Regions from separate parts of the Homo sapiens genome. Here region 1 is linked to region 2. Evidence: fine-mapped expression QTL. A gene starts in region 2. The other region holds a variant in brackets. All regions are shown on one strand. Distances are from middle to middle.

Region 1 (4,398 bases), 990 kb after region 2:
TTGAGGCTACCTAGATAGAATTAAATGTTAGAGTTAATCTAGATGAAGAAGTTGGCTAGCATCTAATTTAACATGTGAAATTGGAGTCGGAGAGAAGGTGACTAATTTGAGAGAAAATTGTGTGATAAATCTGACTATTTGGATATGGGACTGATAGAGCAGGAGAATTACAGATTGACTCTAGGGTGTTCTGGCTTACTTATATATACTAATAGAGGAAATGGATAAGGGCAAAAAGTGGTTACTGTGCTGTTTTGTTGTCATTGTTGTTTTAGAGTAGTGATATTGCTGAAATCCGTTTGTATTTAGGGTTCAACTATATGAGGTATCCAAGTGTTTATGTACCAAGGAAGTGAGAACTATTTGTTTAGGTTTTGGTAGAAATAAATCTGAGCTGTGATTATAGATTATGGAGACTCCCACATAAAGACAGTGCCTAACATCATGGGGTTGAATAGTATCATTAAGTCAGGAACAATATTCCACATAAAAAGAAGCAGGGGTGAGTTAGAGAACCTAAAAAATCATAATAAAAAAGAAAACACGGAGAAAAATCCAGTCAAGAAGACAGAGAAGGAACAGCTGGAGATAAGGGAGGAGAAGCAGCAGAAATGAATGTGGTAGGCACCAAAAGAGACTAGAGTTGCCAAGAAGAAGCAGGTCAATAGTAATGAATTCTGCACAACAATCAACTCATACAAAGCCTGAAAATAGGCTTCCTGATCAGACAAATTAGGAGATTTGTAAAAGCTGATGTGAAAAGAGTTTCCACAGGGTGAGCAAACAAATTGAGGCAATCTGTCTCAACGTTAAAATTATTTTGGCAGTAGAGGAAGGCGTACAATAAGAAAGTACCATCAGGGAAAGTTTGGGGACATGACAGGAGAGATAAGGGCATGCATGTATATGGAATGAAAAAAAAAATCTAGAAATACAAAAATGGCGCCATGCAAAATCAAACTTGTACCTTGCTCTAACTGAGCCCAGATTACTTATTGTTAGTATTTTCTTTATTGGCTAAGGTATTTTGAATTTTGGAAATTGCGTCTTATTGTAATATGCTGCTTTAACACGTAGCTGTGGCATGCAGTCTCAGTTAATAAGACTAACATATGTGAATTTTTTTTTATACTTTAAATTCTGGGATGCATGTCCAGAACATGTAGCTTTGTTATACAGGTATACACGTGCTATGGTGGTGTGCTGTACCCATCAACCTGTCATCTACATTAGGTATTTCTCCTAATGCTATCCCTCTTCTAAGCCCCCAACCCACTAACAGGCCCTGGTGTGTGATGTTCCTCTCCCTGTGTCCATGTGTTCTCATTGTAAAACTCCCCCTTGTGAGTGAGATCACGTGGTGTTCAGTTTTCCGTTCCTGTGTTAGTTTGCTGAGAATGATGGTTTCCAGCTTCATCCATGTCCTTGCAAAGGACATGAACTCATTCTTTTTTACGGCTGCATAGTATTCCATGGTGTATATGTGCCATATTTTCTTTATCCAGTATATCATTGATGGGCATCTGGGTTGGTTCCAAGTCTTTGCTATTGTGAACAGTGTTGCAATAAACATATGTGTGCATATGTCTTTATAGTAGAATGATTTATAATCCTTTGTGTATATACCCAGTAATGGGATTGCTAGGTCAAATGGTATTTCTGGTTCTAGATCCTTGAGGAATCGCCACAGTCTTCCACAATGGTTGAACTAATTGACACTCCCACCAACAGTGTAAAAGCGTTCCCATTTCTTCACATCCTCTTCAGCATCTGTTGTTTCCTGACTTTTGAATGAACAACATTCTAACTGACGTGAGATGGCATCTCATTATGGTTTTGATTTGCATTTCTCTAATGGCCAGTGATGGTGAGCTTTTTTTCATATGTTTGTTGGCTGCATAAATGCCTTCTTTTGAGAAGTGTCTGTTTATATCCTTTGCCCACTTTTTGATGGGGTTGTTTGCTTTTTTCTTGTAAGTTTGTGTAAGTTCTTTGTAGATTCTGGATATTAGCCCTTTGTCAGATGGGTAGATT[G/A]CAAAAATTTTCTCCCATTCTGTAGGTTGCCTGTTCATTCTGATGATAGTTTCTTTTGCTGTGCAGAAGCTCTTTCATTTAATTAGATCCTATTTGTCAATTTTGGCTTTTGTTGCCATTGCTTTTGTTGTTTTAGTCATGAAGTCTTTGCTCATGCCTATGTCCTGAATGGTATTGCCTGCATTTTCTTCTAGGGTTTTTATGGTTTTAGGTTTTACATTTAAGTCTTTAATCCATCTTTAATGAATTTTTGTATAAGGTGTAAGGAAGGGGTCCAGTTTCAGTTTTCTGCATATGGCTTGCCCGTTTTCCCAGCACCATTTATTAAATAGGGAATCCTTTCCCCATTGCTTGTTTTTGTCAGGTTTGTCAAAGATCAGATGGTCGTAGATGCGTGGCGTTATTTCTGAGGCCTCTGTTCTGTGGTCTAGGTATTTGTTTTGGTACTAGTACCATGCTGTTTTGGTTACTGTAGCCTTGTACTATATTTTGAAGTTAGATAGCATGATGCCTCCAGCTTTGTTCTTTTTGCTTAGGATTGTCTTGGCTATGTGGGCTCTTTTTTGATTCTATATGAAATTTAGTTTTTTCTAATTCTGTGAAGGAAGTCAGTGGTAGCTTGATGGGAATACCGTTGAATCTATAAATTACTTTAGGCATTATGGTCATGTTCACAATACTGATTCTTCCCATCCATGAGCATGGAATGTTTTTCCATTTGTGTCCTCTTTTATTTCCTTGAGCAGTAGTTTGTAGTTCTCCTTGAAGAGGTCCTTCATGTCCCTTGTAAGTTGTATTCTTAGGTATCTTATTCTCTTTGTAGCAATTGTGAATGAGAGATCACTCATGATTTGGCTCTCTGTTTGTCTATTACTGGTGTATAGGAATGCTTGTGATTTTTGTTGAATTCTACCAGAGGTACAAAGAGGAGCTGGTACCATTCCCACTGAAACTATTCCAAACAATAGAAAAAGAGGGACTCCTCCCTAACTCATTTTATGAGGCTAGCATCATCCTGATACCAAACCCTGGCACAGACACAACAAAAAAAGAAAATTTCAGGCCAACGTCCTTGAGGAACATCGATGCGAAAATCCTCTATAAAATACTGGCAAACCCAATCCAGCATCACATCAAAAAGCTTATCCACCACGATCAAGTCAGCTTCATCCCTGGGATGCAAGGCCGGTTCAACATACACAAATCAATAAATATAATCCATCACATAAACGGAACCAATTACAAAAACCAAATGATTATCTCAATAGATGCAGAAAAGGCCTTCGATAAAATTCAACACCCTTCATGCTAAAAACTCTCAATAAAATAGGTATTGATGGAACATATCTCAAAATAATAAGAGCTATTTATGACAAACTCACAGCCAATATCATAGTGAATGGACAAAAGCTGGAAGCATTACCTTTGAAAACCGGCACAAGGCAAGGATGCCCTCTCTCACCACTCCTATTCAATATAGAATTGGAAGTTCTGGCTAGGGCAATCAGGCAAGAGAAAGAAATAAAGGGTATTCAAATAGTAAGAGAGGAAGTCAAATCGTCTCTGTTTGCAGATGGCATGATTGTATATTTATATATTTCCTTAACCCAATAAGCAACTTCAGCAAAGTCTCAGGATACAAAATCAATGTGAAAAAATTTATAATACAAAGTAAGCCAAACTTTTTGTTTTGGCTCCTCCTTTAAATTAAATGCTGTTACATAAAAATACTCACTTAAAAGGATAAGGTATGTGCTCAAACAGTGGGTGTGATTTTGATTTGTTTACAACCATTTCCCATGACTTTCAACTACAAACAAATATGAAGAATGCTGGTTTACATTATATCTATCAGTTTCAATAGCAATAGTGATAAGAAAAATGATGGGGTACCAGATGGCATTGGTTGTATATATATCATAAGGAAATTGTGAAACAGACAAAGTACATCTTCATGAGCCCATACTTCTGTCTCAGCATGTCTTTTGTCTCTTGTTTCAAAATCGTCTTTAAATTGACATCACTAGCTGTATACTGTCTTTGAACCTTCCTCTGGTCATCAGAAGTTAATGTTTGTGAGTGGAATCAAATAAGTTAGCTTATTTACATTCAGATATTATTGGTACTGTTTTAATTAGTAACCAAAGATGTCTGTTCCTGTAATTTATCTGTATTCTAATTAAGTTAGCATATTTCAGAAGTTTGCTATTCAGTTTGGCATAAACTTTCCATCCACTTAAGGATAGTCAATCTCTTGGGGGTCCAGTTCAATCTAACCAAATACCCAATGGAGTTAATAATAGTAGTAATTATTATAGAGATGACATCCACAAATATTTCTTATGCAGATCATGCAACTATATT
Region 2 (4,398 bases):
CTCTGAATTAGTGATCATGGATATTTTTAAAAATATGTGTTTGGTGCAAACTTTGCAAATACACATAAAAATACTGGATTTTCTAATCCCTGAAAGAAACTCTCTTCTTTCACCTCTCAGTCGTGTAAGAGTTAACTCTGTTTCCTACAAGGATGCAATCTGTAAGTTAGGTCTGGAAGGCAGCAAAGGCAACCTGGACTTGAAGTTAACACTTCTGTTGTCAAGGGTTACTGATTGGGGGAAGGGAAGGGGCTGTAAAGGGAAAGAGTTACGGAAATGAAGAGGGATTGTAGCACACACTACATAAATTCAAATGCTTTACATGTATTTGGAATAAGATCTCGAGTCTGTTGTATTTTTGCATTGTGTTTTCATTTATTTAGTTTACACATAGGTAGTGAATTTATAGGTTGGTTGATGTTAACCTTATCCAGAGTGGCCCTTTCCAACAATGTTCATTCAGTTGTACATTACATATATGTAATAATTTTGTAATTAAATTGGAATTTATCACAATTATTTACATCAAAGACAATAAAATTATGTTACTTCCTAAATTATAATATCAGTAAATATCGTATCTAGGATTTTGTGGAAAGTCTATGTCATTTTAGTTTAAATAAGGATTTCTCTTTTCCTCCACAAAATTAAAGGTCAAAGAAAACAGCATGTTTAAGACTTCAAATTAATATATATTAAGATTCAGCATTTAATATTCTAATTCTTAAAATAACTGGCTTTACCGATGATGAACTAAAGTGATTTTGCACACTATTACAATATTTCAAATTGCTAGTCACCACAGGTCGGCCTCACTTTAAATCTCCTTGTTATGCCAATTTGCATTACTAATGAACTTGCTAAGAGAGAAACTGTAAAAAGATAATGTAGCAATTAATAGTAAATGCTTGACATACTGTGACATTATAATACCTTTATGTTGATTTATATCTTTATGTCAATATTTACAAGGAAAATATTTTTGAATTTCTAATTTTGCGAAGTAAAAATGATGCTGACGCCATTGTCATTGATGGAATTTTTTCTGTAGCATTTGACTAATATAACCCGTGTTTTATAATTGGTAGACTCATATTTTAGCTTCTACTATCTACTACCCATGTAAGGTATTTTATTTGTAGTAGCTATGAATTGTAAATACAATTGGGTGTTGTGTGTACCTACGTGAAGTGCAGAAGTATTTGATTATATAAAATTTCCTGGATTTATATGAGAATAATGCATAATAGAGAGCAAAAGAGGGTTTTCCTGCCAAAAGTGTCTGTGTGAATTTTCCTTCGAAAATGTTCTTTTAAAATCCTTTGTATGATCAAAGCCACTCCACACAGACAATTAAAAGCAGCTATGGAATGATAGATCACATGACAGGAGTTAAATGTAAGGGTTTTTTTTTTTTTTTTTCCTCCCCCCTCGGTTAAACATCGCAGCAGGCATTACAATACCAGAGGTAACGAATCAATTAAATCCATTTTCCCCTCGGCGTCTCCAAAGCTGCGTGCCTAGTGTTGCTGTGTAGTTTAGACCGGAGCAGTAGGACCCAGGGGCCTCCGCAGCCACCAATAGAAGCGCACACTTGGACCTATTTGTATGCAATGCCTTCTGCTCTGCGCATTAATAGTAATACAGATAACGGGTTTGAAAGAATTCTCTACTGAAGAAGGATTGAATTTTTCCAGGGTGCTGATACAGAGAAGAAACCCGACTTCACTCTCTCCCTATTTCCCCACTCTTAGGTTTAAAAGTCTGTCACCTTTCGCTTGGTTTAAACTCGGAAAGGTCTCAGTGCACAGCAAAGTTGCAGGGCTGCGTCTGCACTACGGAGCCTCTAGATTGCTGAAAACAGTCTTATGGAAGGGTAAGTCTCGGAAATGGTTGCAAGGGAAGTGACAGCTGGCTTTTGATTTGTAAAAGGGGACACGCTGGGTTTTACACTAGTGGTTGTTGGAGTGCAGAATGGTTGCCGAGAGGACTCTGCAGTTTATCCAGAAATTGTGGCTGATGCGCCAGGGTGTTTTGGGGTAGAATCAAAAACCTTCAGGCTAAATCGGAAATTGCAGCCTTGCGATCGGGAGGGATTCAACAAGTTTTCCTGCAGGGATGCGATGTTTGTTTCTTCCTTGCCAGTTGTGCAGAGTGTCCGTTCCAGGTAGGCTGCGGCTGCTTAACAAAGAAGTTTTGGAATTTGTTTGTTGTGTGTGTGGCTGGGCTAACCCTTGTTGGAGTAGGTTTCGTGCCGCTTTTGGCTTCTTGGGGGCACACAGCGGAATTTGCTCTAGGGATGCGGCGAGCATCAGCGGTGTAGTGGGCTGGGGCCGGGCAACTTTGCAGCCTAATCTCAGTGCCGCTGACCGCACCGTTGTTCGTGATGTGAGCTGACTGAGGCATAGACACGGGCAGGCTGCAGGGAGCTTCCAAACTTTGAAAGCATTCTCCAGGAATGGATGCGCGTGGGGGCTTTGAAAATAAGCGTTACTAGGTGGATTTTGGTAAACTCTTGGCGGTATGTAGGCAGTGGGGACTTTTGACACTTGCATTTCCAACCTGCAGGATTTTGCTTGAAAACATGGTGCTGATGTGAAGACGAGAGCTTAAAGCTAAGCCAGCGGGGACTTTGAGGGAGGAAATGAGGGAGGGAAGGAGGAAGAATGAGAGAAGACAGATGAATGAAAAAGGTGCGTCCCATCTTTCACACACAAAAACCACACGAGTGGGACGAACCAGGAAGCGCTCCAGTTGGTGGCGTTTAGCTGGAAAACGTATTGCAGGGAGGTCCAGGAGCCTCTGCATTATTGATGAAACGCCGTGCCCTTCTGGGGCCCCTTCTTGCTCCTTCTCCCTGCCCCATCTTGCCAGCCCCGCTTCCATGAGCCTTCGGTTCCAGCGTTGGCGCGGGTGCGGCTGCGCGCGCGGCTGGGTCCCACAGCTCTGAGAACACAATGGGGAGAAGCAGGCGAGCCCTGCGGGCGGCCGATGCGGAAAACTCGGCGTGGCAACCCCACTGCTGCAGCCTGGGCTGCCGCTCCACCCGGGGCAGCGGCGCTGCAGAGACGGCTTCTGCCCAGTTGCCACGCGCCCTGAGGTCTCGGAGGACCGCGTGGAGGGCGCTCACACCTGGCCGCTAAAATCCTGGGATACCCTTCTAGGAGTCACTGTGTCCCACGCAGATGGGTGGGGTGGGGGAGACGGAATGCTAAGACATCCCACTCCTGCCTCGAGTCGGAGCTCCCACTACTCAAATATCCTTAGTGTGCACCCCAAGCATCTAGAGGACCTGCGCCCCCAAGAAAAAAGGACACGAAGGGGGAAAGAAGGGAAATGTTGATGAGGCTGCAAGAGGGGAAGGAAAACAAGCAATTTAGGGCAATTATGGTCAATGGTCAGGCTTTTCTGGGCTCTTTTAAGTGGATTGATTTAGAGGAGCTTTGAAATGCTGTCCCTGGCCTGTCTGCGGCACTAAAGGGGGCAGATTTCCAGACGCAGGAACTCACTGGAGGCTCCTTCTATAGATGAAGGGAGGAAAGGGCAGGGCAGGAGGCTCATTTCACAGGGTAGTTTAACCCTGACCTCAGCACCTCCCACCCTTTCACGCCCCGCCAAGGAGTGCCCCGACCTTGTAAACTCCTCTGTGTCATCTGCCCTGTGTAAGTGATTTTCATCAAGCTGTGTGTTACAGAGGCCTGTTAAGAGATGGTTGTCTGTTTCCAAGTAGTGGTGGGAGGTTGTTTAATTTGGAGGTTGCTTGTCAACCCGGGCTGAGCGCACAGAGGAAGGAGCGTAGATGCAGGACCCTATAGAATGGGCCACTTGGGGTTGTCAGTTACTTGAAGGCTACACATCAAAGGAAATATACTGATTGAGCACCTGGGGGAAGACAATGCCATTTCATTTTTTCCTCGCTTTCCATGTGCCTCCTTTACTGTGGTTGTTTGGGAACTAGGATATAATAATTACAAAAAAAAGTTGAAAATCCACTGATTTATTTGGAAGCCTCATAACTGGGTTTTCAGGCCCAAACTTGTATTCTCCTAGCAGCTATTATTTTGAAAGCCTCAGTCTGACACCTTAAAACCTGCTTCTCTACTATATCTTGAGGAGGCACTGGTAACTTTCAAAGGCAATCTGTAAGCATGCATCATGTTGATTTTGTTAAAGGGAAGAGGCAGTGTTGGTAGATGTTCCATCAATATTTGCCCTTCCAAAATCGGCCCCCACCCCCCAAAAAAAGGAAGAGGAAGCAGCAGCAGCTCGGAGCAGATATCCAGTTGGTAAGATGACTTTGTTTCTTATGGACCTATACCTCTCCCATGAGGGATAAAAATTAGGATATCTAAGGAGTGGGGGCATTCACCTTATATTGTTGCCACGGTTTTTGGACTT

Evidence for each region. PIP is the estimated chance that this variant, and not a neighbour inherited with it, causes the effect. A credible set is the group of variants that fine-mapping cannot tell apart.
Region 1: its variant is the best candidate, but not a certain one, in a credible set for the expression of ROBO1 in thyroid (GTEx, PIP 0.63).

The regions. Positions count from the first base shown.
Region 1 is chr3:78,776,983-78,781,380 of GRCh38, reverse strand. All of the region lies in intron 4 of ROBO1 (roundabout guidance receptor 1), which reads left to right. Among named protein-coding and RNA genes, the nearest start is that of MIR3923, 730 kb to the left of the region's middle. The variant G/A (reference allele first, on the strand shown) is at 2,035.
Region 2 is chr3:79,765,230-79,769,627 of GRCh38, reverse strand. It overlaps ROBO1 (roundabout guidance receptor 1), which reads left to right and starts at 1,630. Exons shown (of 31, transcript NM_002941.4): 1 at 1,630-1,876.